Linked DNA regions of Homo sapiens: regions 1, 2, 3, 4 and 6 are each linked to region 5. The links come from fine-mapping of genetic effects on gene expression. A gene starts in region 5. Each other region holds a variant in brackets. All regions are shown on one strand. Distances are from middle to middle.

Evidence for each region. PIP is the estimated chance that this variant, and not a neighbour inherited with it, causes the effect.
Region 1: its variant is fine-mapped to the expression of ARHGAP22 in whole blood (TOPMed, PIP above 0.99).
Region 2: its variant is fine-mapped to the expression of ARHGAP22 in whole blood (INTERVAL, PIP 0.98).
Region 3: its variant is fine-mapped to the expression of ARHGAP22 in whole blood (TOPMed, PIP above 0.99). The same link has a PIP of 0.9 or more in blood mononuclear cells.
Region 4: its variant is fine-mapped to the expression of ARHGAP22 in testis (GTEx, PIP 0.93).
Region 6: its variant is fine-mapped to the expression of ARHGAP22 in whole blood (INTERVAL, PIP above 0.99).

What each region holds. Positions count from the first base shown.
Region 1 is chr10:48,646,976-48,652,164 of GRCh38, forward strand. It overlaps a transcript of ARHGAP22 not described here. Among named protein-coding and RNA genes, the nearest start is that of WDFY4, 35 kb to the right of the region's middle. The variant G/A (reference allele first, on the strand shown) is at 2,233.
Region 2 is chr10:48,527,497-48,532,685 of GRCh38, forward strand. All of the region lies in intron 3 of ARHGAP22 (Rho GTPase activating protein 22), which reads right to left. Among named protein-coding and RNA genes, the nearest start is that of ARHGAP22-IT1, 19 kb to the left of the region's middle. The variant T/C (reference allele first, on the strand shown) is at 2,582.
Region 3 is chr10:48,631,917-48,637,105 of GRCh38, forward strand. It overlaps a transcript of ARHGAP22 not described here. Among named protein-coding and RNA genes, the nearest start is that of ARHGAP22, 29 kb to the left of the region's middle. The variant C/T (reference allele first, on the strand shown) is at 2,694.
Region 4 is chr10:48,454,153-48,459,341 of GRCh38, forward strand. ARHGAP22 (Rho GTPase activating protein 22) reads right to left here. Exons shown (of 10, transcript NM_021226.4): 6 at 850-982; 7 at 1-9. Among named protein-coding and RNA genes, the nearest start is that of ARHGAP22-IT1, 55 kb to the right of the region's middle. RefSeq lists an enhancer at 1-869. The variant T/C (reference allele first, on the strand shown) is at 3,482.
Region 5 is chr10:48,602,039-48,607,227 of GRCh38, forward strand. It overlaps ARHGAP22 (Rho GTPase activating protein 22), which reads right to left and starts at 3,035. Exons shown (of 10, transcript NM_021226.4): 1 at 2,725-3,035. The coding sequence starts at 2,758. RefSeq lists an enhancer at 2,456-3,186 and a silencer at 3,043-3,202.
Region 6 is chr10:48,573,555-48,578,743 of GRCh38, forward strand. All of the region lies in intron 2 of ARHGAP22 (Rho GTPase activating protein 22), which reads right to left. Among named protein-coding and RNA genes, the nearest start is that of ARHGAP22, 29 kb to the right of the region's middle. RefSeq lists enhancers at 974-1,475, 3,846-3,895. The variant G/A (reference allele first, on the strand shown) is at 2,914.

The DNA of each region.
Region 1 (5,189 bases), 45 kb after region 5:
GGCAAATTATATATCTGATAATAGATTTGTATCTAGAACATGTAAACATTCTTACCACTCTAATAAGACAGACAACCTGATTTAAAAATGGGCAAAAAATTTAAATAGGCATGTTACCAAAGAAGACATACAAACAGGCTGGGCTTGGTGGTTTACACTTGTAATCCCAACACTTTCGCAGGCTGAGAGGGGTGGATCACCTAAAGTCAGGAGTTTGAGACCAGCCTGGCCAACATGGTGAAACCCTGTCTCTACTAAAAAGACAATAACTAGCTGTGCGTGGTGGTGGGTGCCTGTAATCCCAGCTACTCAGGAGGCTGAGGCAGGAGAATCGCTTGAACCGGGAGGCAGAGGTTGCAATGAGCCGAGATCACGCCATTGCACTCCAGTCTGGGCGACAAGAGCAAAACTCAGTATCAAAAAATATAAAAATGGAAATAAAAAGGCATATGAATAGTTAATAAGCACAGGAAAGTACATTCAACATCATTAATGGTTAAGCAAATGCAAATCAAATCCCCAATAAAATACCACTTTACACCCGCTAGGATAGCTATAATAAAACAATAGCAAGTGTTGGTGAGGATGTGGAAACATTGGGACCCTTATGTATGAGGTGGGATTGTATGACGGTGGGAATGTAAAATGGTACAGAGATTTCAGAAAACATTTTGACAGTTTCTTAAAAATTAAAAAATAAACCTACCATACGACCCAGCAAGAGAAATGAAAGCCGTGTGTTCACAGAAGCATATGCATGTGAATGCTCATAACAGCATCATTCGTAATAATCCCAATCCAAAAACAACCCAAAAGTCCATCAACGGGTGAGCGGAGAAACACAATGTGCATCCCTACAAGGGAGTATTACTCAGCTACAAAGGAGCACACTGATCACTGATTCACACGAGAACATGAATGACCCTCAAAACGTTATGCTACATGAAAGAAGCCCAATGCAAAACACTACACAGTTTATGCTTCCGTTTATAGAAAATGTCCAGAAAAGGCACATTTATGAAGACAAAAAGCAGATCAATGGTTTCCTTAGGTTGGGGTTGGGAGGAAGGGTTAGTTGCAGATGGGCTTGAGGGAATTTTTTGAGGTGCCGGAAATGCCCTAAAACTGGATTGTGATGATGGTTTTACAACTCCATGAATGTAGTTAAAATAATTTAGCTGTGAACCTCGAATGGGTGAATTTTATTGCATGTAACTTACATATCAATAAGGCTGTTGAAATACATAGAATATGATAATAACCAATGCCATGAAGAAAAAAAGATGGGAAAGGAGTATGGGAAGGCAGGGCAGGGTTTCAATTACTGCAGTCATTAAAATCTCCAGGCCCCCAGGATGTGGTGGGACTGCACTTCCTGGGCCCCTTGCAGTTGATTGGGGCAGTGATTAGTGTGGGACAGAGTTGTGAGCAGAGTGTGATGTGTGTCCCTTCCCGGCTGAGGATTTAACTGCTGACGTGAGACCATTCACAAGCTCACTGTTTCTCGGGCCTCTGGTCTGGCAGCATCAGCCTGGGTCTTTAAGTCACTATGATTAACAGGGCAGGATCCACCCCTCAACTCACCCAGGTGACCCGGTGGTTGTGTAACTCATCCCATTCAGACTCACACAGGTGGTCAGAGAAAGCCTTAATAAAAGCTTTGGGTAAAAGTCTGAAAGAGGTGAGTCTGTAGGCCAGGCAGCTGTCCTGGGGGGAAAATGGTCCGGAGAGTGGGCAGATCATGCAAACATCAGAGCAGCAGGGAGGCCGGCACTGCTGGTGCAGAGCAGGCGCAGCGGGGTGGGGGAGCGTGGGGTGCTTGGCAGCAGATCCTACGATGGGCAAGGCGGGTGCCAGAGGAGGGCAGGCAGCCGACAGAGGTAAGTGGCCTGGGCATCCATATGGATGTGTTGAGCAACATGGATGCCCATGGATGTGACAGTGCTGATTGGATTTAGGTTGAAAGAGTCTTGCTCTGTGCAGTATGGAGAGATGGAAGGGCCAAGGGTGGGAAGAAGAAGAGCAATGGGGAGGATCCTTTGCAAAGATCCAGGTGAGAGCCGACCTCTCGCCCCGCTGCCATGCAATTATTCCTATGAACATTCTCATCAGATCAGTCCTGTGCTTATAACCATCAATAGCTCCCTATGCCTCACGAGAACAAGTCCAAGTTTCTGAATATGGCATCCACCTACCATTCCTCCCTTATTACCCCATTCCAACTGCTTCAGC[G/A]CCCCTCTCTCTAAGTCCCCTATTCTCTCAGGACACAGTCATGCCCCCCTACCTGGGTTCTCACAATCCCCTTACATCTCTGCCAGCAGTGGGGGAGAGAGTCTGCTCTGGGAAAGGCCAAGGTGAGGACAACCACAGAGTCAGGGAGGCGTGGGAGAGGGTTTCGAAGGAGCCTCCCTACCCCAGGCTGCTCCCAGCCTTGGTCCCAGCGTGCAGGTCAGGGATTTGGGGACTTGAAGGAGTGGTTGGATTCAGAGATGCCTTCTCCTTCTCTTTGGACACTCTGGCTGGGTATGGGCAGAGGCCACCGTCTTTCTCTCCACTGTGATCCCGAGGCACAGTGGCTTCTTGGCATGGGGAGTGCCAGGAGGGTCAGACAGGGAGAAGCCAGCAGTCTTGGGAGACAACCAGGCAGACCAGTGGTCTGAAGTTTGGGAGCTGGTGAGAAAAGAGGCTGCAGCTAGTCCTGCTGGCAGGAGAGTTCCCTAGGAGGAGCTGAGGCCCACAGTGATGGAGCTGAGGGTGCTGCCCACTGCTGGGTGAGACTTTTAGCACAGAACTCACCAAGTGAGAGGCCAAGAGGCTCACCACCAGCTCCTGCTGGAGGGAAAGTGCTGGTAGGTTCTCGATGTGGCAAGATTGTGGACAAAGTGAAGAAATGAAGCATAGCAGTACAATTGAACGCATAAGGACCTTTCATTTGCCCTCAATCCTTGAAAATGACAGTTAAAAGCAAACTTAAGTTTCTCAATAATCTCCATTAGCTGAGAAAGACGGAGGGAGGGAGGGAGGGAGAGAGAGAGAAAGAGAGAGAGAGAGGGAGAGAGAGAGAGAGACCAGGAGGTGGCAGGTGGAGAGAAGAAAGATAAACACACAGAGGTGCTAACCGAGAGACCAAGGATGGGGAGGGGAAGCCCCCTCCCCCTGTGCTGGAGACTCTTTTTTTTTTTTTTTTTTTTTTCTGCAGCCTTTCACGAAATGGCATTGCCAGTCCATTTTTAGAGTTGTCAAAGTGTTTGAGATTAGGTAATCATTTACAAATTAATCCAGTCTCAAAAGGAATGAATGTGGATGAAACTTGGAAAAATTATGCTAAGTGAAAGAAGCCAGACACGAGGCTTCATAAAAGGATACATATTGCATGAGTCCATTTACATGACAAATCCAGAGTTGGAAAATCCATGGAGGCAGAACACAGATTGATGTTTGCATGGGGTGGAGAAGAGGGAGCAACCTCTTAATAGGTACAAGGTGATGGAAAAATTTTGGAATTAAATGGAGCTGGTGGTTGCACAACATCATGAATGTATGAATTGCCACTGACTTTTACACTTCAAAATGGTTAAATTCATGTTATATACATTTCATCTTGATAAAGACATTAATTCAATCAAATTCATTAAGTTCAGGTATGTCATGCAGTATGTCCTCTGTCCCTTTCTCAAAGGATTTGCACCTATGCTATGAATCTGGGGAAGAATTTATTTCATCATAGAAATCTGGTGGCTGGAACCTCCTACAAAAGCAAGTGACTGTTCCTTCCAAGCCAGATAATGCAATAAACCTAGCACAGGGAAAATAATACCTGGAGATATTAGGTATTAGGCTTGAACAGTTAAAGGTTAATCTCAGCTGCTCCCCCACCCCCTATTTTCTCCTGTGGAAAGTGAGATCCAGGGAAGTTGACAGTGTGAGAAGTGTCTGCAGCACGAGGCCGGCCCAGGGGTCCTGGCTTCTAGCCCACTCCGTTCTTCATGAACACAGAGCTTTACTCCTCACCCCATGAATATCTACTCAGACCACAGAAAAGGGGCTCTGTGGAGTCTGAGCCCACCCTGGGCTTGGTCCACTATATCCTGAACCTGGTAGCATATTACATTACATCACATCACCTGGGACTTTAAAAATATGCTGATATCTTGGATTCATCCAAGACCAATTAAACCTGCATCTCTGGAGGGGGAGCCTGGGAATTTTTAAAAGCACCTTGGGTGATTTTAATGTGGAGGTTGAGGTCCATGACTGCATTTCACCCACTAGCTTCTAGAATTTCCAATCTTTACCAGTCCTGGAGGGGCTCAGGCAACATCATCTCATAACTGAGCCCATCAGGTCATGCATATGACCTGACTAGCAACTGCCAACCATCACCTACACAGCCCATGCAGCCCAGCACCTGCACAACCCATCCAATCATCACCTGCATAGTCCACCCAGCCAGCACCTGCACAATCCACCCAGTCAGCACCTGCACAACAAGCCGAATCCTCACCTGCACAGCTCACCCAGTCAGCACCTGCACAATCCACCCAATCATCACCTGCATAGTCTACCCAGCCAGCACCTGCACAACCCACCCAATCAGCACCTGTACAACCCATCCAAATCATCACTTACACAGCCCACCCAACCATCACCTGCACAATCCACCCAATCCTCACCTGCACAGCCCACCCAGCGAGCACCTGCCTGTGACCCAAACAAACAGTCATCCCACTTGGTCTAACAATTATCTCCCAGGCACTTTACTGAGGGACCCAAACAGACAGTCACAGCCATCCCATTTGGTCTAATAGTTACCTCCCAGACACTTTAGTGAGGGTTACTGAGATGTCCTCACTATTTCTCTACTAGCCCCTTGGCTGGATCCTTTCCAAGCAGAGATGCAGAGTAGCCTTCAGCTGCACACAGCGTTCCCCTGTGAAGGACTTGCCTACTGCCCCAGCGGTCCTTGGACATAGGAGTCCTTACAGACTCTGAATGCAATCAGAGCCCTGAGTCATTAGAGCCCAGGACCCTGAAGTCTCTGTTTTTCAGGCAGACACAGAGCAGCTGCCATAGTTCAGGGGTGGGGTTTGTGCCATCAGCCATTTCCAGGAGCTGAAGGAGGTCAGAACCCTGACCACAGATGCCGCCTGGTGCTCTCAGCCACAAGACCAAGACAGCCTCCGGGGACC
Region 2 (5,189 bases), 75 kb before region 5:
ATGGAGGTGTGGATAGGTCAACAGAATGATGGATGGGTGGAGGGATGGTTGAATGGATGTGTTCCATAGGTGAACAGAAGGAAGGATGATGGATGGTTTAATGGTTAAATAAACAGAAGAATGGGTAGTTTTCCCTAGTTAGGCCTAAAGTCATGGGCTGCGACTGGCAAAGCACCCACTTAGCATAGAATTTGTCTGAAAAATCAAATTTTCTGAACATAGCTCTGCCACCCAAATTGATGATGACCCCAAACTAACTAGAATTTAGCCAAAACATCAGGATCACATATGCTGCAAGGCTCTAGCTGTGCTCAAGCCGCCTTGCTCCAGAAGAAGGGCCAGAGGTGGGAGCCTCTAGGACATGTTTCCCAGCAGGAAGGCCAGCCTCCAGCCCACCACCAGGCACAGGGCAGAAGAGATAGAACCAGGGGGTGGATATCCAGTGGGCACAATGGGCTCTGGGAGGAGGCTGGACACCAGCTTTGAGGACAAAGTTTCTATGGGATAGAGGCTGCCCCATTCATCCAGAGCTCTACTTCCTGCCACTTTACTCCATTTCTCTGGGAGACCCACAGTTGGGTGGTGAGAATGTCAAGCTGTTTCTAGGGGGTGCTGCTGCTGCTGGGATCCTGAAGCCTGTGCAGCCTGAGCCCCTGGTCCCAGATATGCCCCAGGTCATTCAAGGATTTTCTTAGGAGACTCAGGACCTGCCCTCCATAGTTCCAATGCAGGAGTCTGGATTGCTCCTCCCCAGAATATCCAAGGCACCCTCACAGCACTATCTCAGGTGTGAGCTCAGCCCTGGGTAGCTCAGAGGAAGGGAATAAATGGGAATGTACCATCTTAGCCACAAGCATAGCTTAGGGAGCCTATAATGATCATTCTTTCCTTCACTCATGTACAAATGATGACTGAACACAGCTCAATGCCTGACACAAGGCCCAATGTGGGGCGGGGGATAGGAGGTTGCCCCGGGAGCTGTAGGGGACAGAAAGCCAGTCTGCCGAGGGTGGTAAAGAAAACTCTGCAGAGGAGAATGCTTTGAGGTGGGACCTGAGCTGCAAGGAGGGGTCCAGCACCTTAGGGGACAGCACAGGAATGGTCCCTGATATGGTGTAGACGTGTGTCCCCTCCAAGTCTCATGTTGAAGTATGACCTCCAGTGTTGGAGGTGGGCCTAGTGGGAGGTATTTGGGTCATGGGGCTGATTCTTTATGAATGGCCTGGTGCCATCCCTGTGGCAATAAGTGAGTTCTCACTCTGGTAGTTCACATGAGGGCTGGTTGTTTAAAAGAGTATGAGATCTCCTCCTTTTTCTCTCTCTCTCTCTCTGTCTGTTACTTTCTTGCCATGGGACACATATGCTCCCATTTGCCTTCTGCCATGATTGTAAACTTCCTGAGGCCTCCCCAGAAGCCAAGCAGATGTTAGTGCTATGCTTGTACAGCCCGCAGAACTTTGAGCCAAAATAAACCTCTTTTCCTTATAAATGACCCAGTCTCAGGTATTCCTTTATAGCAATTTGCATGGACTAACACAGTCCTCCAATGGGTGCAGTAGTATCCCATTAAGAACTTGCTCTTTACTTGGGTCAGGGGAGTCACAACATGGCATTTAGGGTAGAAGACATGATGCAGCCTGTGATTCTGACTGGCTAGCCTGGTGGCTAGAGCGAGATAGGGACTGGAAGGGGGAGACTGGAGCAGAGAAAAAGCAAAGATGCAAAAGGCATAAGCCAGGTGAGAGATGTGGGCCGAACACAGGTTGGAGGAGTTGGAGACCAGGCAGGGCAATGTGTTAGCTCAGGGGCCCCAGCTAACCACACCTTCCAGTTCTTGCATCTTATGTAATCCCCTCCCTCGAATCTAGGCTGCCCTATGAGCTGCTTTAATTGACAGAAGGTAGCAGAAGTGACTCTGGACCAATTCTGGGTCTAAGTCCTAAGAAAACTTGGCAGCTTCTGCTTTTCCCTGTCGTCAGGGAAAGCACCCCCTTGTAAACAGTGGAATTGTCCTGAGACTGTTGTGCTGCAAGAACCCCAACCTAGCAATGTGGAGAGGCCAAATGGAGAACTGAGGTCCAAGCCAGCAACCACACTGACTTCCAGCTGTGTGAGTGAGGCTGTCCTGGAAGTGGATTCTCCAAGTGATACCATGTGGAGCAGAGAGAAGCTGTCCCCACCAAGCCATGGCCACACTGCAGAACAGTGAGCAAATAAAATGTGTTTTGTTTTTAGCATGGTACTGGTATAAAAATAGGCATATAGACGATTGGAACAGAATAGAGAACCCAAAAATAAAGCCAAATACTTACAGTCAATTGATCTTCAACAAAACAAACAAAACATAAAAGTAGGGAAAGAACACCCTATTCAACAAATGGTGCTGTGATAATTGGTAAGCCACACATAGAAGAATGAAACTGGATCCTCATCTCTCAACTTATATAAAAATCAACTTGGCTGGGCGCGGTGGCTCACGCCTGTAATCCCAGCACTTTGGGAGGCCAACGTGGGCAGATCATCTGAGGTCAAGAGTTCGAGACCAGCTTTGCTAACATGGTGAAACCGCATCTCTACTAAA[T/C]ATACAAAAATTAGCCAGGCATGGTGGTGGTCATCTGTATTCCCAGCTACTTGGGAGGCTGAGGCAGGAGAATTGCTTGAACCCAGGAGGCGGAGGTTTCAGTGAGCCAAGATTGCACCACTGCACTCCAACCTGGGAGGCAGAGTGAGACTCCATTGCAAAAAAAAAAAAAAAAAAAAAAAAATCAACTCAAGATGGATCAAAGACTTAAACCTAAGACCTGAAACTGTAAAAATTCTAGAAGATAACATTGGAAAAACCCTTTTAGACATTGGCTTAGGCAAAGACTTCATGACCAAAAACCCAAAAGCAAATGCAACAAAAACAAAGATAAATAGATGGGACTTAATTAAACTAAAATGCTTCTGTATAGCAAAAGAAACAATCAGCAGAGCAAACAGACAACCCACAGAGTGGGAGAAAATCTTTGTGATCTTTACATCTGACAAAGGACTAACATCCAGAATCTAAAAAGAACTCAAACAAATCAACAAGAAGAAAACAAACAATCCCATCAAAAAATGGGCTAAGGACACGAACAAACAATTCTCAAAAGAAGATATACAAATGGCCAACAAGCATATAGAAAAATGCTCAACATCACTAATGATCAGGGAAATGCAAATCAAAACCACAACGCGATACCACCTTACTCTCACAAGAATGGCCATAATAAAAAAATAAAAATAAAATAGATGTTGGCGTGGATGTGGTGAAAAGCAAACACCTCTACACTGCTGGTGGGAATGGAAACTAATACAAAACCACTATGGAAAACAGTGTGGGGATTCCTTAAAGAACTAAAAGTAAAACTACCATTTGATTCAACAATCCCACTACTGGCTATCTACCCAGAGGAAAGTAAGTCATTATATGAAAAAGATACTTGCACACGCATGTTTATAGCAGCGCAATTCGCTATTACAAAAATATAGAACCAGCCCAAATTCCCATAAATCAAAGAGTGGATAAAGAAAATGTAGTATATAAATACCATGGAATACTTCTTAGCCACAAAAAGGAACGAAATAATGGCATTTGCAGCAACTTAGATGGGACTGGAGACCATTATTCTAAGTGAAGTAACTCAGGAATGGAAAAGCAAACATCGTATGTTCTCACTCATAATTGGGAGCTAAGTTATGGGATGCAAAGGCATAAGAATGATACAATGGACTTTGGGGAATTGGGGGAAAGGGTGGCAGGAGGCTGAGGGATAAAAGACTACACATTGGGTACAATTTGCACTGCTGAGGTGATGGGTGCACCAAAATCTCAGAAATCACCACTAAAGGACTTATTCATGTAATAAACACCACATGTTCCCCCAAAACCTATTGAAATACATTTTTTTAAAAAAGGAAAATATGTGTTGTTTTAAGTCATTAAACTTTGGAGTAGTCTGTTAGGCAGTTACAGATAGCTGAAACATAGGAAGTGATGCAAAATCCTTATGGCTAGCACTGCCTGGCCCTGACAATGTGCCAGGCTAAGAGCTTGACATGTGCACGTTCACTTAGAATTCAGAGCAATCCTATGCATTCGATGTCATCATTATTTCCACTTGCAAGAGGAGGGCACCGAAGTACAGAGAAGTGAGGGCACCGAAGTACAGAGAAGTGAAGTCATTTGCACAAGGTCACAACAGCTAATTAGTGGTTAAGCTCAGATTGGAACCCAGCCCATCTTGCTTTCTAGCCTGTGATCTTAACAATTCTATGATAAATGTTTTTTGGGGAAAAGGAATGGGACTCGATGGTGAATAAGATGGCCTGTGGGACAAAGGCACACATAACTGTAGTTGAGACTTCCAGTTAAAAAAGACAAGCCCTGTGGAGTGCTGGATTGAGACCGCGGGTTATTGCTCCTAGCTTTTCAGAATAATGTCTGTCTCCTGCCAGCCCTGGCCTCTGGTAGAGGGAGCTTGTTGAAGAAGGGCGTGATGTAGACACTTTGTAGACAGCTTATCACAAAACATACCTTTGATTGGCACTAGTAACTCACGGGCATTATTTTGTTTAATTTTCACAATAGCCTGTAAGGGTGATATGTCATCAGATCCAATCTACAGGTGAGGATATGGACACCCGCCCAGGTTATGCGAGCTCTCAAGATCACACAGCTGGTGGGTAGAGGGTAGAGCCTGTCCTCCAATCTGGGCAGTCTGAACACTGCTGGTCACCTTCTTAACAACCACTCACTGACTTCTGCCTCTTGGTGGTGAGGGTCTCATCTGGGCCTGCGTCCCTGCCCCCACCCCCTTCTCCCATCATATTTCTGATCTATATTAGGAGTTTGGCTAAAATTCAGTGTGCACACACACTGTATGTCCACATAACACAGACCCACAGACATTGGAATTGGAAGGTTCTCTTTTAACACAACCTCCTCATTTTTCACAAGCAATTTTTTTTCTTTTTTTATTATACTTTAAGTTCTAGGGTACATGTGCACAACATGCAGGTTTGTTACGTATGTATACATGTGTCATGTTGGTGTGCTGCACCCATTAACTCTTCATTTACATTAGGTATATCTCCTAATGCTATCCCTCCCCCAACCCCCCACCCCATGACAGGCCCCAGTGTGTGATGTTCCCCTTCCTGTG
Region 3 (5,189 bases), 30 kb after region 5:
GTTTTTGTTTGTCTGGGAAAGTCTTTATTTAGTCTCACTTTTTTTTACAATGAAAATTATTTTTCTATTTCAATACTTTTGGGGTACAGGTGGTTTTGGTTACATGGATGAATTCTATAGTGGGGAATTCTGAGATTTCAGTGCACCTGTCACTCGAGCAGTGTACACTGTACCCAATATGTAGTCTTTGGTCCCTCAACCTCCTCCCAACCTTCCCCACGAGTCCTCAAAGTCCATTATATAATTCTTACGCCTTTGCATCCTCATAACTTAGCTCCCACTTACAAGTGAGAACATATGATATTTGCTTTTCCATTCCTGAGTTACTTCACTTAGAATAATGGCCTCCAGCTCCATCCAAGTTGCTGCAAAAGACATTATTTCATTCCTTTCTATTAGCCTTCACTTTTGAAGAAAAATTCCAGTAGTTATGCAATCCTATGTTGGTAGGGAGTTTTATTGCAGCAGTTTTAATGTACAAACTATTCAACATATTTTTTTTTCAACAGTTGAAATATTTCCCTTCACTCTCCACTTGCTTGCATGACTTCTGTTGTGAAGTCTGATATAATTCCTATCCTTGTTCTTCTAAAGGAAAGGTGATCCCCATACCCCTGGCTTCTTTCAAGATTTTCTCTGTCTTTTGTTTTCTGCATTTTGAATGTGAGACACCTAAGATGTGTATATTTTTTGTTTTTATCCTGCTTAGGTCTGTGGTTTGTTTTCTGTCACTGCCTGGAGTTGGCCAACTCCAAGTTTAGAGTGCACACAGGTCTTCACAAGACCAGCCTCACTTCCAACACCAACTGCAAATTGGGGGGTGTTCCCAAAACCACCCAGGCTAGGAGCTGTGCCGTCTTTAATATTTGCTGTGTCTGCAGATGCCAGAGCGAAATCATTGATTTTAAGTTTGCACAGATTTTACCTTGTTGTAAGGATGAGAGTGAAAATGTCTAAGCTTTTCACATGTCAAAGATGAAACCAGAAGCCAGAGTCTTTCCATTTTCATCACTACTGCACAACGCTGACTATTCTTTTCCTTCATCTACCCCTGGAAGATCCTGAGTCACCTGCCAGAGGACATCACCTGCCACACGGAGGACATCAGTGGACAGTTCCCTCAGGCCTTTCCATTGGATGATATGAGAAGAGCATGAGCTCCAGAAGGTAAGAGTTTTTGCCAATTATGTTGCCTGCTGTATTCCAGTGCCTAGAGCAGTGCCTGGCACAACTCATGTTTGCTGGGTGACTGAATAAATTATCAACCCTTAGGAAACTTTTGAGATCATTTCCCAGGCCTGTCCACCTTTAATGGCCCCAGTCAGCTCTCATTTCTGCAGACAATCTACCTTCCTCTGAGACTCCCAGGTCTGAGGTTTGCAGTGACTGCATGCTGGAGAAGTAAAACTGGGAGAAAGCTCCAAATGTAGGGTTCCTGTGTCCAGAGTCTCCATCATATCACTTGGTTTTCAAAAAATTCCCAAAGGAAACAATTCTCAGCCAGAGATTAACAGTGGCATCTGATTGTTTGTCTGGAAGGGAGTTCCCACTTATTCAGGGTTTACCCTGTGCCTTTCCTTGAACTCTTTTCTTTTAATTAGACATGTAATCCTTATTACAGTCTTGTGAGATATGGCCTATTGTGGTCTCACTTTTACAATGAGGAAATGAAGCAGAGAGATTATATCACTTGAGTAAGGGCATAGAGTAAGCAGGTGGTAGAACCTGGATCCACACCCAGGCCTGGCTTTCTCTAGACTGTTTTTACATTTTGTGGGAAAATGATGCCAGCAGCAGGGAGGGAGGGCTGGCTTTCCCTGTGGACTTTCCACAAGAAAATCCCTGTTGACATCCATCTGCAGAAGGAGATGGGCAGGTTAATAGAGACAGGATCATTCCACGGGGCTAAGAGGAGGAGGGAGCAGAGGGCTGGGCATGGGAGGAGGGAGAGCCTTTCCTAACTGAATGCTGGGCCAAGCTGGCTGCGGGATGCCCTGACTCCTGGAAATCTCTGGGGCAGGTGTCTGAGAGTTGACACCATGGGCATCTATGCCCTATGTTCTCCCTCACCTTCTTCCTGGCCACCAGGATGCTGCTTCCTCCCACGCTTGTTTCTATGATAACTGGCAGGAAGTGTTATCTGCTAGCCAGCTCACCTGTTGAGAGAAGCCAGTTTGCACTAGTAGCTCAGTAGTATCATGGGTAGCTGAATGGGTACTTTCAGATTTGGGTGGCGGATTTGATGGGAGCAGCCAAAAGGTGCCATCAATGTCCCTAAAAGCAGAGGTACTGCTGTGAGTGAGCACTAAAGATGGGTCAGCTCAGATCTGGGTTGAGTCCTGTCTGCCACTAACTAGCTGTGAGCTTTTGGCAAGTCAGTAAACTTCAGATCTTCTGCTTCCTCATCTAGCCAACAGGGAAAAGTGCTCTGCCCCCACAGAGCTGGGCCATAGGAGAGGATAAGCTGCTGGGTGCAGAGGGCGGTGAGCCTGCACTGTGGTTTGCCCATTTCACAACCATTCCCAGAGTCAAATCATTTCTCCCAGATGTGCAGAAACAGAAACCATTGTAGGAAACTGGGTCTCTAAGAAGAGCCGCTGACTCAGCCCTTATTTGGTTCTGTGGCTGGGGGTGGGTGAGCCTGGGCTTCCGCTTGGCTCCCTAGAGGGTAGTGTGGCTGGCAGGGCATCTGT[C/T]TAGACACTCTCTGAGGCTCTGCCCAGCCTGTTCTTTGGAATAGACTCTCCTCTGCTTCTCAGGGCTGACAGCTCTGAGCCCAGGAAAGCAAGAGGGCTGAATTGTGTCCCCCGACTCCAGTTCATGATGAAGCCTAACCCCCACCGCCCCATACAGAAAGTGGCTGTATTTGGAGATAGGGCCTTTAAATATCAAAGTTAAAATGAGTGATTAAGTTAAAATGAGGTCATTAGGGTGGGCCCTAGTCCAATATGACTAGAGTTCTTATAAGCAGAGGAGATAAGGACACAGATACCAACTGTGTGAAGACACAGGAAGAAGGTGATATTTACAAGCCAAGGAGAGAGGAGAAAGAAGCTTGCTAACACATTGATCTTAGACTTCCAGCCTCCAGAATGGGAAAAAATACATGTATGTTGTGAAAGCCCTGGGGCCCGAGGTGCTTTGTCATGGCAGCCCGAGCAGACTCATGTACCTGCCCTCCCTCTTCCTCAGTGTGAACAAGGGAATTCCAGCACCCATGGGAGGCTCTTGGAGGCTAGGCTCCTTCTGGGTCCACCGTGAATGAAGCACTTCACCTTGTTTCTGGGCCTCTGTCTCTTGTTGCCCCCACCCCCACTTCTGCACTGGGCCTGGTGTTTCCCTGGACCCCGACTCCCTGTCTCCTCAGGCATGACTAGTTTCATACTCCTCCAAGGTTGGTAAGAGAAAAATGCCTGGGGTTTAGGTTATAGCTTGAAGCACAGCTTTGGGTGCTCCGTAACTTGTCCCAGCCCCTTGGCCAGCTCCAAGTTCAGCCACAGCTGTGGTGAAACGTCCCCTCTTAGGTGAGCCCACTGATGGCTTCCCGCTCCAGGCTCTCAGCCCTCGGCTTTCTCTGAAGCCACAGGGACCCTAAGCCCTGGGCAAACAAATGCAGTCCAGAAGGGCTGGGTGTCCACACCCCTGGGGTTGCCCTCAGCCAAGGGAGAAAGGGGGCCGGGTAACCCCCACCCTCTCCCCTTCCAGGCTTATGGCAGGTGAGTCTGCACTCTTCCCAGAGTCCCTGTGGAAGTGAGTCTTGGGACAGCAGCAACCTTCATTATGCCCCTCACACTGGCCTTCCCTCCTTCCTGGTGTCACTCTTTGCCCCATCAGTCCTGCTTCCTGGCATCACCTCCCAAATAAACCACCTGCACCCAAGCCCTTGTCTTAGGCTCTGCTATTGGACAACATAAACTTAGACTACTTCCTGGCTGGGGAAGCAGGATGGAAGGACTGCACTTTTGAGCTTCAGTTTTCTCCTCTGTAAAATGGGAACATTAATATCTTGCAAGCTGGCTACAGGAATTAAATGACATCACCCCTGTGGATATTGAAGAGAGTTGTAAACCGTGCAAGGTGATCTCAATGTTGTTATTTATTATTATTTTTAGTTTGGTGGTAGCATCAGGTCCTTACTCTCTCTCTCTTTTCATTAAAGAAAGAAGAAGGAAAATCTCCATCTTCAGACTCATTTCCCAGGGGTCCTGTGCTGCCAGGTGCAGGTGAACATCCTGGAGAGGCTTGGGGGTTAAGGGGTTAATGACATGGCTGCTCCTTCTTCCTCTGCCCTGCACAGCTTCAGCATTTCTCTGGTGGCTGTCGATAAAGGCATGTTAGCTGTGGGGACACTGCATGAAGGAGACATTCAGGGTGTCTGGGTCTTTCCAGCCCAGCCCTGCATCCATGCTGTCTGTGTGCCTGTGTCCCATGCTTGGTGCTTGTGCAGGGAGACTGGGGTGAGCAGGATGGAGGCCTTAGAGCTTGTGGTATGGCCCTGGTCCTCTTCCAGGAATGTCTGCTTGAGTCTGCCCACTGGGCTGCTCCTGCCCAGGCTCCAAGAGCCAACAGGGATTCTCCCTGCTCTGAGACCCTGCCCTGAATCCATGGGTTGCATCGGGGTCCTCCTGTTTCTTGCTGCTCCTTGTACCACCTGCACCACAGCCCTGCCCTTTTGCAGACCACGATCTCCTAGAGAGGAGGGGATATATCTTTACACGTGTTATGTGTGTCCAAGCTTTAGAGCCATGACTGCTGGCAAACAGTACCAGCTCAAGACCCATGGCTATAGTCATCGCTAGTAGGACAGTGGGAGACCAGTGAGGAGTTCTCACCTGAGGTCACCACAAAGAGGCCACGAAGTGGGCAGGCAAAGCCCAGACCTTGAGTGGCATGCAAAACCCAGAGTGCTGGGAGGGAAGTCAGAAGGGACAGGACAAAGGGTTCAGGAAGCAGAGCCACTCATAGAATCAGGATATGAAAGTAAAAGGTAACAAGTTGGAATAGTACATTGGGGTGGGCAGAAGACATATCAGGGAGGGCCGGAGTCTGAGAGGCTTTCTCATGATGGCCAGGACTTTAGCTTCATTCTGAGAGCTCCAGCGTGAAGGGCCAGAATGGGTGGTTAGGACAATCAGAAAAGCTGCCTGCATACACATTGCTGCCATCCCTGCCAGGCCAGTCTCTGAGAAGCT
Region 4 (5,189 bases), 150 kb before region 5:
CAGAGTGCCCTTAGGAATGAAGAACAGAATTTCAAACACCGGCAATGAGGGCCCTGACTGTTCTCTGACTGCGAGGAGGGGTGGGCAAAGAGAAGGGAGGTGGGGGCTACGGCAGCCCAGCCCCAACAGACCAGAGGGCTCCACCACCTCCACCTCCCCTCAAGGAGTGGCCAGGGCCCAGCTGTGACCTCCTGGGAAGCTAACTTGCTTCCAAGGAGCTGGTGTGAGGGGTGAGCCTCTACAGGGCCCGTGGAGGAATGTCAGGGCCAGCACTCAGCTCACTTATCAAGACACAAATATTTGCCAGATAGTGAGCCCTCATCTCCCACATGGCCGCAGGGAAGGCAAACAGTCCTTCCCTGGCCCTGAGCCACCTGGGGCTGCAGACCAGCACCTGCACGGGTGGGGACGGGAGGGCTGGCTCATCTGTCCTGGGAGCCAGCTCAAATTCTTTTGGGAAGGAAGCAAGATATAAATAAAAGATGTCCTGGTTTCTGAGCCTGTGACGGGCCTGAGTGGCCTGAGTCGGGTGTGGGGAGTGTGAGCACCTACTGGTGTGACAGCCAGAGCTGGGCACACCGGACCCACCCCTCCCAGGGACCAAGGCCGCAGACAGGTATGGCTCCAGACAGCAGGATTCCCCAGCCCTCCCCGACCTGAGCAGGATGCCCTGGCCCCTCCCCCACCCAAGCAGGATGCTCCAGGCCCCCACCACACCCCCAACACAGCAGGCCTCCACAGGATCCATGTGCCATGAAAATTCATGAAAAGTCAGAGTCTGTGTCCTGAGTCTACAGGCTGCCACCCAGCCAGCCCATCTCCCAGGAGCTATCCCCAGGAGCCACTGACCTCCCCCTCGTCCTTGGTGAGCAGCTGGGCGCAGCTGAGGAAGTCCTCGTACCTGGCGAAGGGGACCACGGGCTCGGGGAGCTCCCGCAGGTACAGCTTCAGCAGGGAGGCCACCGTGTGCACGTCTGTTGTGCTGTGGGGGGGAAGAGGACAGGTGTGTGAGGCCTGGGATGCCAGGGGACTTCAGGGGTGACTGGTACGCCCTGACGCCAAGGGGCAGCCTCTGGTCTCAGGTGCATTCTTGGGCGCACTGGGGGCTGCATCTGCGGCCAGCTGCCCTGGTCAAGGAAAGGCCAGTGCTGCTTCTGGGAGCAGTGGATAGAGCTGGGGCAGGGACGACTAAGTATCCATGGCCAGGAGCTCCAGCTCAGGGACCACCCATCATGCCTAGGCACCTGCTCAGAATCCCTGAGTCTCATGTCTGTGTCAGTCCGTCCAGAACCTGTCCTGCGTAGACTGCGTAGGACTCCAGGAACTGTGAAGCCACAGGGCCCTGCAGGGCACAGCTGCTCCACCCTAGCAGCTGCCCTGGGCCAGAGGAATCAAGTGTGATGCAGGTCAGGTTGCACAGGGGAGGGCCCTGGGACATGGGCCAGGGAGCCCCTTCCACAGGCCTGGTGGCCATCCCAAGGTCCCCTGCAAGACGATGTGGGAGCTGCCTGCTCTGCGGTAGGAACAGCTATCCTGCAGGCCCTCCATAGGTGCTGCCAACCCCCAGCCCGAGCTTGCCCTCTCCACTGCACTTGACTTTGGCTGGAGTGGGAGGAGCTGCATCAAAGGCGCCCACAATGCAGGGCTGCTGGCTCCTTGTTGGGGAGCAGGTATCCGGGGACCAACAGCAGGAGCAGGTCGGAGGTCAGGCCCTTTCCTCTCTTCCTGTCCACAGTGGTGACACCTAGGCTTCTAAGCTCATCACCCCCTCTCCAGTGCCCCAGGAGTCCACTCCAGGCCTCAGTCTCCCGCTCTGGCTCGGAGCTGCCAAGGCAGAAGTAGACCAGTTGTGGATGGTGGTGGCAATGGGCCTGGCATAGTCCTTCCCTGGGTCCTGTGTGGGGTCTGCAGTTCAGGTCCTAAACGAGAGCCTTGGCATCTCCTCCGAGCTTGCGTTCCAAGCCGTATATGGGCCCCAGGTTGTTCATCTGCTTGTCTAGAACCATGGACTTAAACCCTGGGCTGCATTTCCCTCAGGAAAGATGAGACGGGGCCAGGAGACTGTGGCTGTGCCATTATGCTATCACCTGATCCCGGATGAATCCCAGGCTAGGCTCACTGAGATAAATACCTTCTGGCCCTGACATTTGGGATTCTGGGGTTCCATGTATCCATATGCACCCCAAATCCATATACCTGGGGCCCCTCCTTGCCTGAGGCTCAGTGACTCTTGGTCTGGCTGGATCCAGGCAGCCCCCATCCCACCCTCCTTCCATCTCCAGCCAGGCATGCTGCTATCACACCCTCCTCGGCCTTCTCCCGGGCCATGTTCCTGGCCAACTGCCCTGGGTACCCAGGCTTGAGCCCAGCGGCCCCTTCCCCACTGGGAGCCCGTGGCTTCAGTGGCAGCCTGAGTGGAGCGCAAGAGACTGGGGGAAGGGCAGGAGGCAGGGAAGTGTGGTTGGCAGCCAGCCCGTATGTCTTCCCCTTTTCTGCAGCTGGGGGGATGGGAGCATTTCTGCCCTGGGTGAGTGGACACAGAGCCACCCCTCCTCTGCAGACCTGCCCGGCTGCATCCCTGCCCCGCAGGGTCCTGCTGCTTGGCCCTGCCTGACCCCCTATCCGCTCAGTACCTGAGCTCTTACTTCCTTTCCTCGTCCCTCCCTCCCTCCCTCCCTCCTTCCCCACTGCAGTGCCTTTCCTCCAACAGCTGTCACCAGGCCTTTTCTTGAGACTTTTCCCTAAACTGCTGTCCCCTTCCCCCCTCCAACAAGCACCCAAGGAGAACTCTGTACAGCCCGTGGTCCTGTGGGCGCCTCCCCAGCCTGTGGGCCTCCCAGCATGCGGCGACATTAGCGCAGGCGGAGGGTGGGGGCAGGGGTGGGGCAGAAAGGGCAGCAGCTGGTCAGGGGACGAGGTGCCTGCCCTGGGGACAAAGAGGCCCTGGTGGTCAGTGCAGCCCGCAGCAAGGTGACCCTCCATCTGCAGGTTCCTCGTCACCTCTCTGTACCCAGGGAACCCCCCGCCCACGCCAACACCGGCATCTATGCAGAACACGCCATGCCTCCAGCCTGGTCCTGACTCGCCTCACTCCCCTAGAGTCCGTTTCTCATCACCCATCCCCACTTCCTCGACCTGCCCCCCAGCCGGGCCGCCTGCTTCACCCCACCTGGGTGTCCGCAGGGCTCCTCCCTGAGCAGCCCAGCCCTGCCATCTGCAGCACCCTGGGAGGTTCCCTACCACTAGGCCCGGGACTGGTGTCCCTGGTGTTTACTTGTTATCTGTCAAGACCCACCCCCCTTAGAATTTCTAATGCATGTGGGTGCCCCTCCACCCCTAGGCCTCCCAGTGCTCCCTCCCTCAAAGGATAGCAGCTGAGGGAGTAAGGAGAGCCTGGCGGCCAGGAGTCCATGCAGCCCTAGGCTCCGGCCCACAGGAGGCTGTCCTCAGAGCTCAGCAGCAGGGTGGCAACCCGGGAGAC[T/C]GACAGCCCAGTGCCCAGGGGACACTGTGCTGGGAAGGGGCAAGTATGGGACAGCTCCAGGCACTGAGGCTTCCAGGCCTGGTGAGGCTTTAGCAGAAGAGAAGCCCAGGACCTGGGGCTAAAGGGGACCTTCTTATAGAGATGAGCAGGAAAGTGAGGAGGGGGCTTCCTGCGGAAGGGGCCAGGACAGAAGCCAACACCCCAGCAGGCAGGCAGGCTATGGCCTTGGGGAGAGAGCTCCATCCCGGGACCCTCTGTTGGAAGTGGGTGAGGAGGAGACCCTCTGTTGGGGGTGGGTAGGGAGGGGGGACCTTCTGTTGGGGTTGGGTGGGAAGGGGGGCCTCCCTCAGGGGTGGGTGGGGAGGGCCCCTCTGTGGGTACAGCTGCAGAGCCAGAGGAGCTGCCATGGAAATGGCAGAAAGTGGGAAGGATGGCCTCAGATACCCCAGGAGGAGTTTCTAAAGGGAGAGGAAACCAAAGCCCAGGGCCACCGTGGCAGTATGGGGGTCACTGCTGAGATGGGGGTGGAGGGACAAGGCCAACATGCCCACCATGGAGATGGCCCTCCTGACACAATTCCAGAAGCAGGGTAGAAGCAGCCAGAGAGGGAGAAGGCAGACAGGGGAGGGCCTCCAAGACATAGGGAAGGCTGCCCCAGGCTGCTGGGAGGCCGAGAGTCAGGTCTGCATGGAACCCACCCTAGGGTGCCCAGCTGCCTCTCAAGGGGGCTTCAGCAGGCAGGCCAGGTGGAGAAAGGAGGCTGAGCATGCCAGGAACCACACCTTGGGAGAGCAGGTGTGCCCAGGTGGAGACCCCCCCAGCAGGATGGGAGAAGCTTGGCAGTGTGGGTGAGGCGCAGACGGCCTGTGCCACTCCAGGGAGCCCCAGCAGAGTTTGAGTAGGGGAGTGGCAAGGTCTGATCTGTGTCTGCAGAAGCCCCTCAGGTAGCATCAGGCACTAGGGCAGAGCATCTGATCCTGGGGAGCTTCCAAAAGTCTCGGCTCCCAGGCCTTACCCAGGTGACATTATTTGAAGCAATCTGCAACCCTAACGCTGAGACACAGGATGGAAGAGGCCTGGCTGGCTGAGGTTCAGAATGGACGACAAGCTCACTGAGCGTCAACACTGGGATGGAGCTTCACAAAGCTCCAGAGGAAGGGTCCCCCGTACCTCCCTGGGTGGAGCACCGCTAGGGAACAGTGGTCAGTCCTGGACTCCACATCTAAGGAGAGGAGCTGACACCCTCCCCTGGCTGCAGTGACGGGCCTGGGAAAGAGCTGAGGGGCTGAGTGTTCTGCCCCCAGAGGAGAAGCCCTGGGAGGCCAGGGCTGCCTGCAGGTCCTGGTGGGCCCATCCTGGGGCAGATCCAAGAAGACAGGGCATAAGCCCCATGGAGGGTAGTTTTTCCTGATGTAGAGAGAACTCTATGAAAAAACTGCCCCATAATGGGTGGGGGCACTGTCAGGGGAAACAGAATCCCCAAACGGCCCTAGGCTGGGGGTATAGTTGGCTCCACCCAGGGGCATCCAGGGCCTGGGTAAGCCCCCATGATGGGTAGGATGGACATGGCCCCGGCCCCAGAGCAGATGGAGGAGACTCGCTCTCCTGTCCCCAGAACCCAAAAGGAGGGGAGCCGAGCTGCTGTGCCATCTTGCCATTGATAGAGCCTGGGGGTAGGTCACCGGAGGAAGCACGGCCAAGAGACAGA
Region 5 (5,189 bases):
TTCTTCTACATCTGTCAAAATGGTAACAATGATATCACATTATAGTGTAGTCATGAGAATTAAATGAGGTACAACAAAAGTGCCTGGAGCATGGGTGCACAATAAATGTTGGTTTACTTTCTTGTGGGACAATCACAAGAATAAGGCCATTGAAGGTACTTCATCATATTAATAGAGCTTTCTCTCCCCACCCCCAAAGTATTGACCAGGCTCTGAACATTCATCAAGGCTCCTGAGACATTGACACTCCTGCTACAGGAGATGGTTAAAGCTCCTATAACTTGGCCCATCAGTCTGATGATTTCCTTTAAAAGAAGGAGCCTCCTTAATAGCATCAACAATTTTATTTTGAAATATTGCAAACAAAGACAGAAATTCTAAAAGGAAAATATATACGAGTTAAAAACAGGTACATCTAGAAAAAAAACCCACTCTAATATAAAAATAAAGGGCAAGCAACAAATTGGGAAAATATTTGCAACATATGAGTCAGTGAAAGATGAGGCCAAATTTCCTAAGTACCGGGCCAGCTTGGGTAGAGACAGTGCTCCAGCCACCCAGGCAAATGCTTTCTCCTCTATCCAGCTATTCATCCACTCACTCAAAAAACACAGGTTGAGTGTCCACCAGGTACCTGGCATTGGGGGTATAATGATGTCCCCGAACAGAAATGGTTCCTGCTTTCACGAAGCTCATGGAGCAATGCAAGTGACAGATATTCACCAATCAGTCACACTCAGGAGTATACAACTGCAACCTATGGTAAATACCATAAAGAAAAGGAGAGATGGAGCAGAGGATCCAGCCTGGACTGGGGTGTGTGGGAAGACTTCCCTGGCTGGCAACACTTGAACTATACTATAACTGGAGGGTGAATAGGAATTAAGGTGTGTGTGTATGTTTGTATGCATGAACGCATGTGCACACACATACAGGCATGCATGTGCGCACATGTGAATGTGGGAGGCATTTCAGGGGAAAGAACGATGTGCAAAAGCCCTATGGTGGAAGCCTCATGGAACACTGAGGACTGGAAGAGGGCTGTATGGCTGGCCTATACGCACTAGATGCCAGTAGCACCCCTCAGTTGGAATAACCAAAAATACTCCAAACAATGCCAAATGTTCTCTAGTGGGGCAAATTGCTCCTGGTTGAGAACCATTGACTTAAAACAAACATTTATGAGAAATCCTGGATTTCAAAGACAGGCTGCCTGTAAGCCCCTTTGCTGAAGCACTGGTCTCTTACTAGCACTGTCCAATAGAAATATAAAAAATATAATATGAGTCACATATGTACTTGTAAATGTTCTAGTAGCTATAGTAAAAGAATGTAAAACAGGTAAAATTAGTTTTAATAATAGATTTTATTTAACCCAATATATCCAAAATACTGTCATTTCAGTAAAATAATTATTAATGAGATATTGTACATTCTTTTTTTGTACTAAATCATCAAAATTTGGTGTGTCTTTTTCTCAATTTGGACTAGTGACATGCCAAGTGCTTAGTAGCCACATGTGGCCAGTGGCCAGCTCATTACACAGGAGTGGGAGGGTGGAACTAAGCTCTCGCAGAGGTATCTGGCTTGTCCTATCCCTTGGGTCATCACTAGACTTGCCCCCTCCTCAGCAGAGCCATGCAAGTTCCTCCTTTGCCCATTGGGGTACACAGGGTTCAGCCCATGCGAAAGCACCCCACAGAGGGGTCCTGACGTCTGTGGAACACACTGGAAGGCTGGTCCCATCCAGGAAAATCATCCAAGTGCTTGCAGTGTGCTAATAAGATGGGTGTGTTCCCTGTGAATCCACAGGAGGCTGGAGGCCCCCCGCTGCAAACACCTGGTGAGACACAAACTGTTTCCAAGCTCCCAGGCAAATGCTCCATCCACCTCCAAAGACCCATCCTCCACTTCATTGTTTACAAAAGGAGCTCAGCCCTCCCAGATACTGGCCACCTGAAAAGACACATTCTATTTTTGTAAAAGACAGATGTTCTCATTCAAAATGACACTTTCCGTGGCTAAGAAGTTGTTGTCCATGGAGATGCTGTCTCTAGCCCCATACAGTGGCCAAGTCTTCAGGTCACTGTGCTGGGTCGCTGGCTGGACACAGGCTGGCTAGCCCAGTCCTGGACTCTCCTGACCCCCATCTCTTGCTGGTCTGAGTCTGCTCCCGCATCCACCCGTCCTGCCCCCAGACCCTGCAGCTTTCTGAGTGTTCTGGCAGGAAAGCCTGCCTGCCCCTGGCCTGCTTGAGGAAATACTGTCTGCAAAGCAGCGGGAACGAAGACCCTCGCTTGCACCCAGCTGTCTCTAGAAGCCAGGGCATGGCCTTCCCTGGTAAGGGGTGCTTCTGTGTTGGCCACAGGGCAAATCTTGGGCATTTCCTTTTTAGTAAAGAAGCAAAGTTTCCTTAAAGTTGCCACCAGGTCACCTGGAGCGACCGAGGGCCTCTGTAAAATGTGGAATGTGGGGCGAAGTGTGCACACCCACTGGGGCACTAAGCCGGCCACCGCCCTTTTGCAACTTCAGGTCGTGTCCCCACCCAGCCCAGGAGTTTCACGAGGAAGGGCACTTCCTCAGGAGGATGCTCACTATTCAGCGGCAATGGTCCCAGAACGCCCGCCCCATGTGACACATGGCGTGACGGCTGGCCAAGTGTCCGCGCACGTTTGCCAAGAGGCACATGCGGTGCCCAGAGAAACCCCAGAAAGTTGGACTTACCCCTCCTGGCCTGCCTGATCTTTGGGCTCAGCATGTTCTTGCAGCCGTCCGGCCAGCCCCGCAGGGCCGTTCATGCTGTCATCCACTTGCTTTTGCTCGTCCTCGCGCCTAGTCGCCCCTCATGTCCTGCTCGTTCGGGGCCCCGTGGCCGCTGGCGTCACCCGTCAGGCTCCCTCGGCTACCTCTCCTGGCTCCGGACGGACGGCTCGCCTTGGACTACATAAACCTCGATGCATTATTTATCCATCCCAGAATTAATTCCCATCCAAGCGGACCATTAAAGCCTCAGTAATCACTGCTGATCAATCACTGGACCAGGGCGGGGCAGTCCCTCCGCCTGGCCTGGGCGCACGCGTGGCTGTCCAAGCTGAGCGCGGGGGCGGGGCGGGGCCGAGAGGGGCGGGGCCAGCCAGAGACGCGGGGCGCGGTCCTGGCCCGGGAGAGGGTACTGGGGTTCCGGCCATCCTTTGCTGAGGCTGGAAGAAATGCGCCTTTCAGCCGCCGCCTGGGAGCCGCACTCCCTGCCAAGCCCGGGTGGGATAGCGCTTTGGTGAGAAGGTAGCCGAGACCCCCCCCCCACCCCAGAGCCCAATCCACGGGGACCCGCTTATGAGCTCACTGTTTTACGTGTTGAAAGTCAGGTGTGTCTGGGAAGGAGCAAGCAGCCCGGCAATGTAAACTCCTCAGGAGACTCCCAACAGGAAGATGCCTGTTAGGGATACTATTTATGCCTCTTTAGTAAGGTGACAGGAATAAGAGGGCAGGAAGCACTTAACTCAGGGCTCTTCATAGGAAGATCTGAATTGAATAGTGAATCTCTGCTAATTGCCATGTTTCTGTTTGATGCTGGCATAATTTTAAAGGGTGTATACTGGGGCTTTGTGAGGAGCGGAATCCAGCCTCAAGATGCTAAAAATTACCCAAGGAATGCAATCATAACAATAGCTATCATTTATTAGGCACCTACTATGTGTCAGGCACTGAGGCTGGTGCTTTACATTCAATATCTCATTTAACTCTCAAACTCCTGAAGCAGGTGCTATATATATAGCGTTTCAAATCTGGAAAATAAGGCACAGCAAGGTTGAATCACCTGCCCAAAGTCATACAGTACCGAGCAGCAGGGCGGGCACCAGAACCCAGGGCTGTGTCTACAGCTCCTGCTGCTCTGTGATGCCAGCCTCTCCACCCTATTCCCATCACTGCATGGTAACAGCTCCTGGCTTGAGCCCCCGATGAACTTGCTGAACGGTGACCTGCCTCTGTGCCCCTGATAATCACTCCGTGTATCCTCTTAGGCATCTGAGCTTGGGTCTGGCTATTTGGGCCTGAGAACTGTGTGACCCTTTCAGTAGCTGGTAAAGAGGGATTTGAACAATGCCCTCCCCTGCTCAGATGGCCATAGCCTCCATCTGACCCTCCACACTCCCTCGAGTGCCCCATGTCCACAGATCCCCAAGTGTCCTATTGGTATGTAATCAACTTTAGCAGCTGTAGAGGGAGAGAGCCCACCAGGAGATCACTGTGGCAGTCCTCCCTAGGGAACAGTGTGCCCTATGGAGAGGGGAGGACTGCAGAGTAAGAAGAAAGACTCACCAGGATGTGGTGAGCCACATGGCCAAGCTGGTGGGAGAAGGTAGAGTCCATGGACACAAAGCTGTCTTACTCAGCATCAAGTCACTTGTTCTGGTCTTCAGCTACTCCTCAGAGGGATGAATGAGTACCTTGGCATAACATTCCAGGTTCTTTCATGGTAGCATCCATGGACTCCTCTCTGACCTATCTCTTGCCGATGCTCTATACAACCATATGCACATACAGCGCCTGCTCCTGTGTGCCCCAGTGACTTTGCACATGCCTTGCTCCTGTGTGTTCCTGTTCTTGCATGTGCAGCCCCTGCTCTCCTGTGCCTCTGTGTTTTTGCACATGTAGCTGTGTCTTTGCACGTGCAGTTCCCTCTCTCTGGAATGCCCTTCCTCACATTGCCTTGTCCTCTTTGGGCAATTCCCCAATGAAATTCTCCTGATTCCACCAGCAGAATGAGCCACTAAGCACTTCCCCTGGGCCCTTATCTATGTCCCTGTACTGCCCCTCTTGTACGCCCTCCCTGAGCCCCAGGCTGACTCAGGCCAGAAGCCTCACAGGAAACTCTGGCTTCATGGGCAGATCCAAGAAACACCACTGAATGACAGAACTGACCTCCTTTTCCTTTAAGGCCAGGTACAAGCCCTGGTTGGGACAGGGGCCACCCATGAGGAGTGGGGAGAATATCAAGCTAGAAAATCTCATGTCGACACCAGGGTCACAGGGCAAGTCCTGTGGCTTGTGACAATGTCTTGAGCAATCAGGAAGCCATTTGTGAGTAATGCAGCCTGGACCACTTCATCCAAGTCAGAGGCAAGGAAATGCCCTGAGACTTAGTCTGGGTCCACTCACGCTTGTTTTGGTTAAGAAACCACCCCCAG
Region 6 (5,189 bases), 28 kb before region 5:
TGTTCAGGCAATCATTGTTTTCTAGATCTGCAACTTCCTTTTTATAATTCATATTAGATGCCTTCGCATGCTTCTTGAAGGTCTTTCATTTCAGAACCCATTCTAAGAATTGTAATAGTCTTATCTCTGAGTGTTTAGGCAGCATTGACAACACTATCAACCACAGCAACTTCCATTTGTCCAATGCTTAGTGAAGCCACAGCCTCAAAGGACCACACCAAAAGTAGGAACAAGAGGGCTTCAATGATCTTCCCAAATCTATAGCTAGTAGGTGGTATAAATGGGACTTGAAGCCAGGTATTCTGGTTCCAAATATTATGGTTTTTTCCATTATAGTATGCAAGCTTTCATTCTACCTTTTTGAGCCCCACATTCTCTACCAGTACAGTGGAAATTGATTGTGCCTGGCCTTGTGGAGATGCTGTGTGAATGTTTATTGAACAAGTGTTTATTGAGCTTCTACTATGTGTCAGACATTGTTCTGGATACTGAGACACAGAGATAAACAAGATAGACAAAAACCTCACCTTGTTGGGCTTACAGTCTGATAGGGAAGGCAGTCAATAAGCTCTTTGCCAATTCTCAGGCACTTTACAAAAGCAATAAATTATTTTTCCATTGAGGATCTAATACAAATATGGGTCACACTATGCACTCATTCATTCCATTTATTTTTCTCATTTATTCATTCATTCATTCAATTATTCAAGTAAGCACCCAATATTACTGGATACCAATTATGTGTCAAGTACCGCTAGGTGATAGGAAAAGAGAAATAATAAGACAGATTGAAGCCCCACCTGAATGAGGTTTATGATATAGAATGGAGAACAGAAATTAAATTGAGGAAGTGTTATAAATAACAACAGCAATATCAAAACAGTAATGCAATAATAATAGCAGTGACATCCTCTTGGCTGGTTTGAGTAACAATTTACAGCTTATGAAGGATGCACAGTTAGGGCTTGCTAAGTCAACTTGAGCTGGGTGGAGGTTATGAGGTCCAGAAGTGAAGGGCATCTGACACAGGGGCGGTCCTGTGAGCTGTGAGCACAAGATGAGCTCCGACACCTGATGGCATCTTCATCGTACCCCCAGGTGGTGCTGAGATGAGGGCCATGGAAGATAGAGCCAGCCAAAGGTGTGAGGTTTTTGTGGGCAGACATTAATGGCACGGCAGGGGGTTGTCCTAGCAGTCTCACTGAACTTGTGTCAGCTTTCAGGCGCTATCTGAGAGTGAGTACCTGTTAGTCTTGGCCTGATGTCAGTCCTTCAGTTTCCTCATTTGAGAAATGGAGACAACCCAGGCATCTACTCCAGGTCAAGGACTCAGGGAAGGAGCGTGATATGGTTTGGCTCTGTGTCTCCATCCAAATCTCATGTTTAATTGTAATCCCCAGTGTTGGAGGTGGGGCCTGGCGGAAGGTATTTGGATCATGGGGGCGGTTTCTCTTGAGTGGTTAGCACCATCTTCTTGGTGCTGTCCTCAAAATAGAGTGAATTCTCACGAAATCTGGTGGTTTAAAAGTGTGTGTGGCACCTCCCTGCTCTCTCTTTTGCTCCTGCTCTGGCCATGTGACATGACTGCTCCCTCTTTGCCTTCCGCCATGATTCTAAGTTTCCTGAGGCATCTCCAGAAGCTGAGCAGAGGTCAGCATCATGCTTCCTGTACAGCATGCAGAACAATGAGCCAATTAAACCTCTTTAAAAAAAAATTATCCAGTCTCAGGTATTTCTTTATAGCAATGGGAGAATGGAGTAACAGAGTTCATGAAAGCAACATTTTATTTTTTGTTTTTGTTTTTGACGTGCAAGTTTGGTAAACAATGGGGTGGGAAATGAAGATTCCCTGCAGGCTGAAATATTCCTGTGACTTTCAAGTTATGGGATAGGATGGCCTCTCTTTCTTCCCCTGAGGTTTCCTCTTTCTTAAAGATTTCTGGTTTCCGACTGTCCAATATTAATGTTCCACTCCTAGAAGTGCATGTGCTTTCCCATCCATCTTGACTTTCTCCCCACCAGTCTCAAGCTTTTACTCAATCACATCAAACTTTAAATCAATCTTCTATGGCTCCTTATTGCTGAGCTTCCCTCACTTATTCTCCTGGAAAAAAAATAAAACATACAACAGAAACCTAGCCTGCTCTCAAAGTGATTTTTAAATTGCCTCTTCTAGAACATAATGTTGCATCAGCCATGGCAGGTAGGTGGGAGGGGGAAGTGTGGATTCCAAACTCCACCTGCCATGTTCCCTCCCCTGCTTCTTCCAAGGCCCCCAGCCCTTGTTCCAGCATGGTGAGGATTTTCTTGGCCTCAGCTGATATTAGAACACCAGCCCCATCTAAGTGGCCTTTCTGCTTCCAGCCTGGTCCTGGTCAGCCCCTATCTGTGCTGCTGCAGGATGACTCTCCTCTTGGGGCTCTGATGGCCAAGTATAAGCAACCCACAACCTTCACTGACCCCTATCGCAGCCCACGAAGTGAGGACCTAGATCCTGGGTGTGGCAGTGAAGCCCCTTTACAGGAGTCCTCTAGTCCCACATCTGCATTTTGTGTTCCTGCCTGTAGGATGAGCATCCTATGCCCTACGTCAGAGACTATGGGCTCCCCACTGGGTGTGGACTGCCAGACACATAGCATCCATGGACCTCCCACACATTCCTAGGTTCATTCTAAACACATCTTCCAAGAACCTCCAATATGCCAGGGCCTCTTCAGAGGCCAGCGTGGGGCTCAGTGGCCCTTTCTAGAAGAGGGAGCCCCTGGCCTGGCCTCCCCATTCTCCTCCTGGTCATCCAAAGAACCTCTAGCACTGTGGCCCTGCTGCATTCCGTTTTTTGGTTATAGTTTTTCTTTTCTTGTTTAAATTTTTAAAATACTTTAAAATATGGACTTACATGAAGATAGTCTCAAC[G/A]TGAGAAATTACAATAACACAGAAAAAATGCAAGCTGACCCTGTTACCAACTCACTCCCCTGCCTCACATCCCTGCCCCATGGCTCTGACTTGTCTTATTTGTATGCTCAAAATCTCAAAAATAAATTATTTCCATCTTATTTCACTTTTTTTTTACAATGAAAGTTTACACTTGCACATAGTTTGAAGAATCAAGAGTTCTACACGGCTTATCATGAGGCAGCAAATTCTTCCCCTGCCATTGCCTGAATCTGTCACCACGTTCTATGGTCTCAGATGAGGTTTCTTTTCTATCTTTCTCCTTTTTTTAAGATATTTATTTCTAATTAGTATGCTTATGTTACTCCTTTTTGATTTTACATTTTAGTCATTGTCTGTGGAATTCCTAGCATGGGCAGTGAGATTTTGCTTTCTGCCCCTTCTCCACTCACCCATCCCTCCCCACACCGCCACCCACCGCCACCCAACCACACACCTTCCCAAATCTCCATGGTAATTTTGGTTATCTCAGTTAGTATTTAGTGTTTATACTCCCATCCTGGGGAGTTTATTTCAAGCATTTCTCTAAAGACTCTTTTTCCTTCATTTCTCTCTTCTCTTTTTCTAAAACTCCTTCTATTCGGACATTGGGTTGTCTCTCTTATTGTCCTCTTCTTCCTAGAAGTGTCAAGTTTTCATCCAACCCTTCTTTGGAGTTTTTTATTCATGATATCTTATTTCTGACTTCTGGGGATCGGTTCCTCCTCTGACTCTTCCGTATTTAGAGATTCTCTCTGAGGATATTACAGTAGTTTTGTATAACAGTTTTCTTCCCCCTGCACAGTATCTGCTGCCTGCAACTTGCTTTTTGTTTTCTTCCTCTTTTTGTCTTGGTTCCTCAAATGAGAGTGTTTCCTCAAATGTCTGCTGAACCAGGCCTATCACTCCCACTTGAGAATGGTTCTCTATGGAGCTGACTGGGTGGCGTCGGAGGATGGGGAGGGCATACACAGGAGGGTCCACCTCCGCCATTTTACTGGAGAACCTCTGGAGAAATTTACTGGAGAAAATTCATCAGTTTCCTTCCTGGGGGCTACTCCTGACTGCTGGGGCTTGGAAACCAAATGTGGATAGAGACTGGGGCCTAAGGAACTGGTCTGCACACTGATGTTCACCCAACCTTCCTGTTCTCTAAGATATTCCACCAAGAAAGGGCCAGAGTCCCCATTATAAAGGGCTCCCTTTTATTCTCAGAGAATACATACAACTCCAGTCTTACAGCTGAGTCGGGGCGGGCAGTCACCTCTTGGCACTGGATTGCTCAGAAAATCTGAGATCTAACTGCTCTTTTTTGGTTTTTTTTTTTTTTTTTTTTTTTTTTTTGGAGACAGAGTCTCGCTCTGCTGCCCAGGCTGAAGTGCAGTAGCGCTTATCTTGTCTCAACCTCTACCTCCCAGGTTCAAGCAAGTCTCCTGTCTCAGCCTCCCGAGTAGCTGGGATTACAGGCATGTGCCAGCACACCCGGCTAATTTTTGTATTTTTAGTAGAAACGGGGTTTCACCATGTTGGCTAGGCTGGTCTCGAACTCCTGACCTCAAATGATCTGCCTGCCTTGGCCTCCCAAAGTGCTGGGACTAGAGGCGTGAGCCACTGCGCCTGGCCCTAACTGCTTTTTTTTAAGTTAACCTTCACCCAGTGCTCCTGTCCTGAGCTCCTTTTTTGCCCTCATTTCCAGAGATATCTAGTCCTGCCAAGCCCCAAGTCTTTGAGGGGTTTTGTTTTGCAAACCAGACAGCTTCCATGCTCTCCTTTGTGCTGGTTTGGGATTTAGCTGTCTTGGATCAGCTAAATAAATCAGCAGCCTCTCCCTCATCTGTTTTCCTGCATCCAGAATGCTTTCTCCCCTCATGTTCTTTCCATCTAGTTGTGCTTGTGCCTTTAAAAACATCCTCTAGTGCTGTATCATGAAGTTTTGTGATGTGGAGGAGCCAAATGTGACTTTTAAATGTCACCCTTAACTGGAAGTTTGAATTTGAGTTTTGGTTTTCTCATTAACTACAGAAGTATTATGCAGTGTATGTGTGTGTGTGTGTGTGTGTGTGTGTGTCTGTGTGTGTGTGTTTGATCTTCGCTCTCTCATGCCTGCACACTCTCCTCAATGTCATTTTGTTATTAACTTGTCTTTTTTGCTTTAGCATTATTGACAGTGATTGGGTCTCTGATTTCATTTTTTTGAAAAAGTTTTTTTTTTTAAAGAGAAACAATGAGTGTTCTTTGTTTATGTCTTCCTCAAAGCT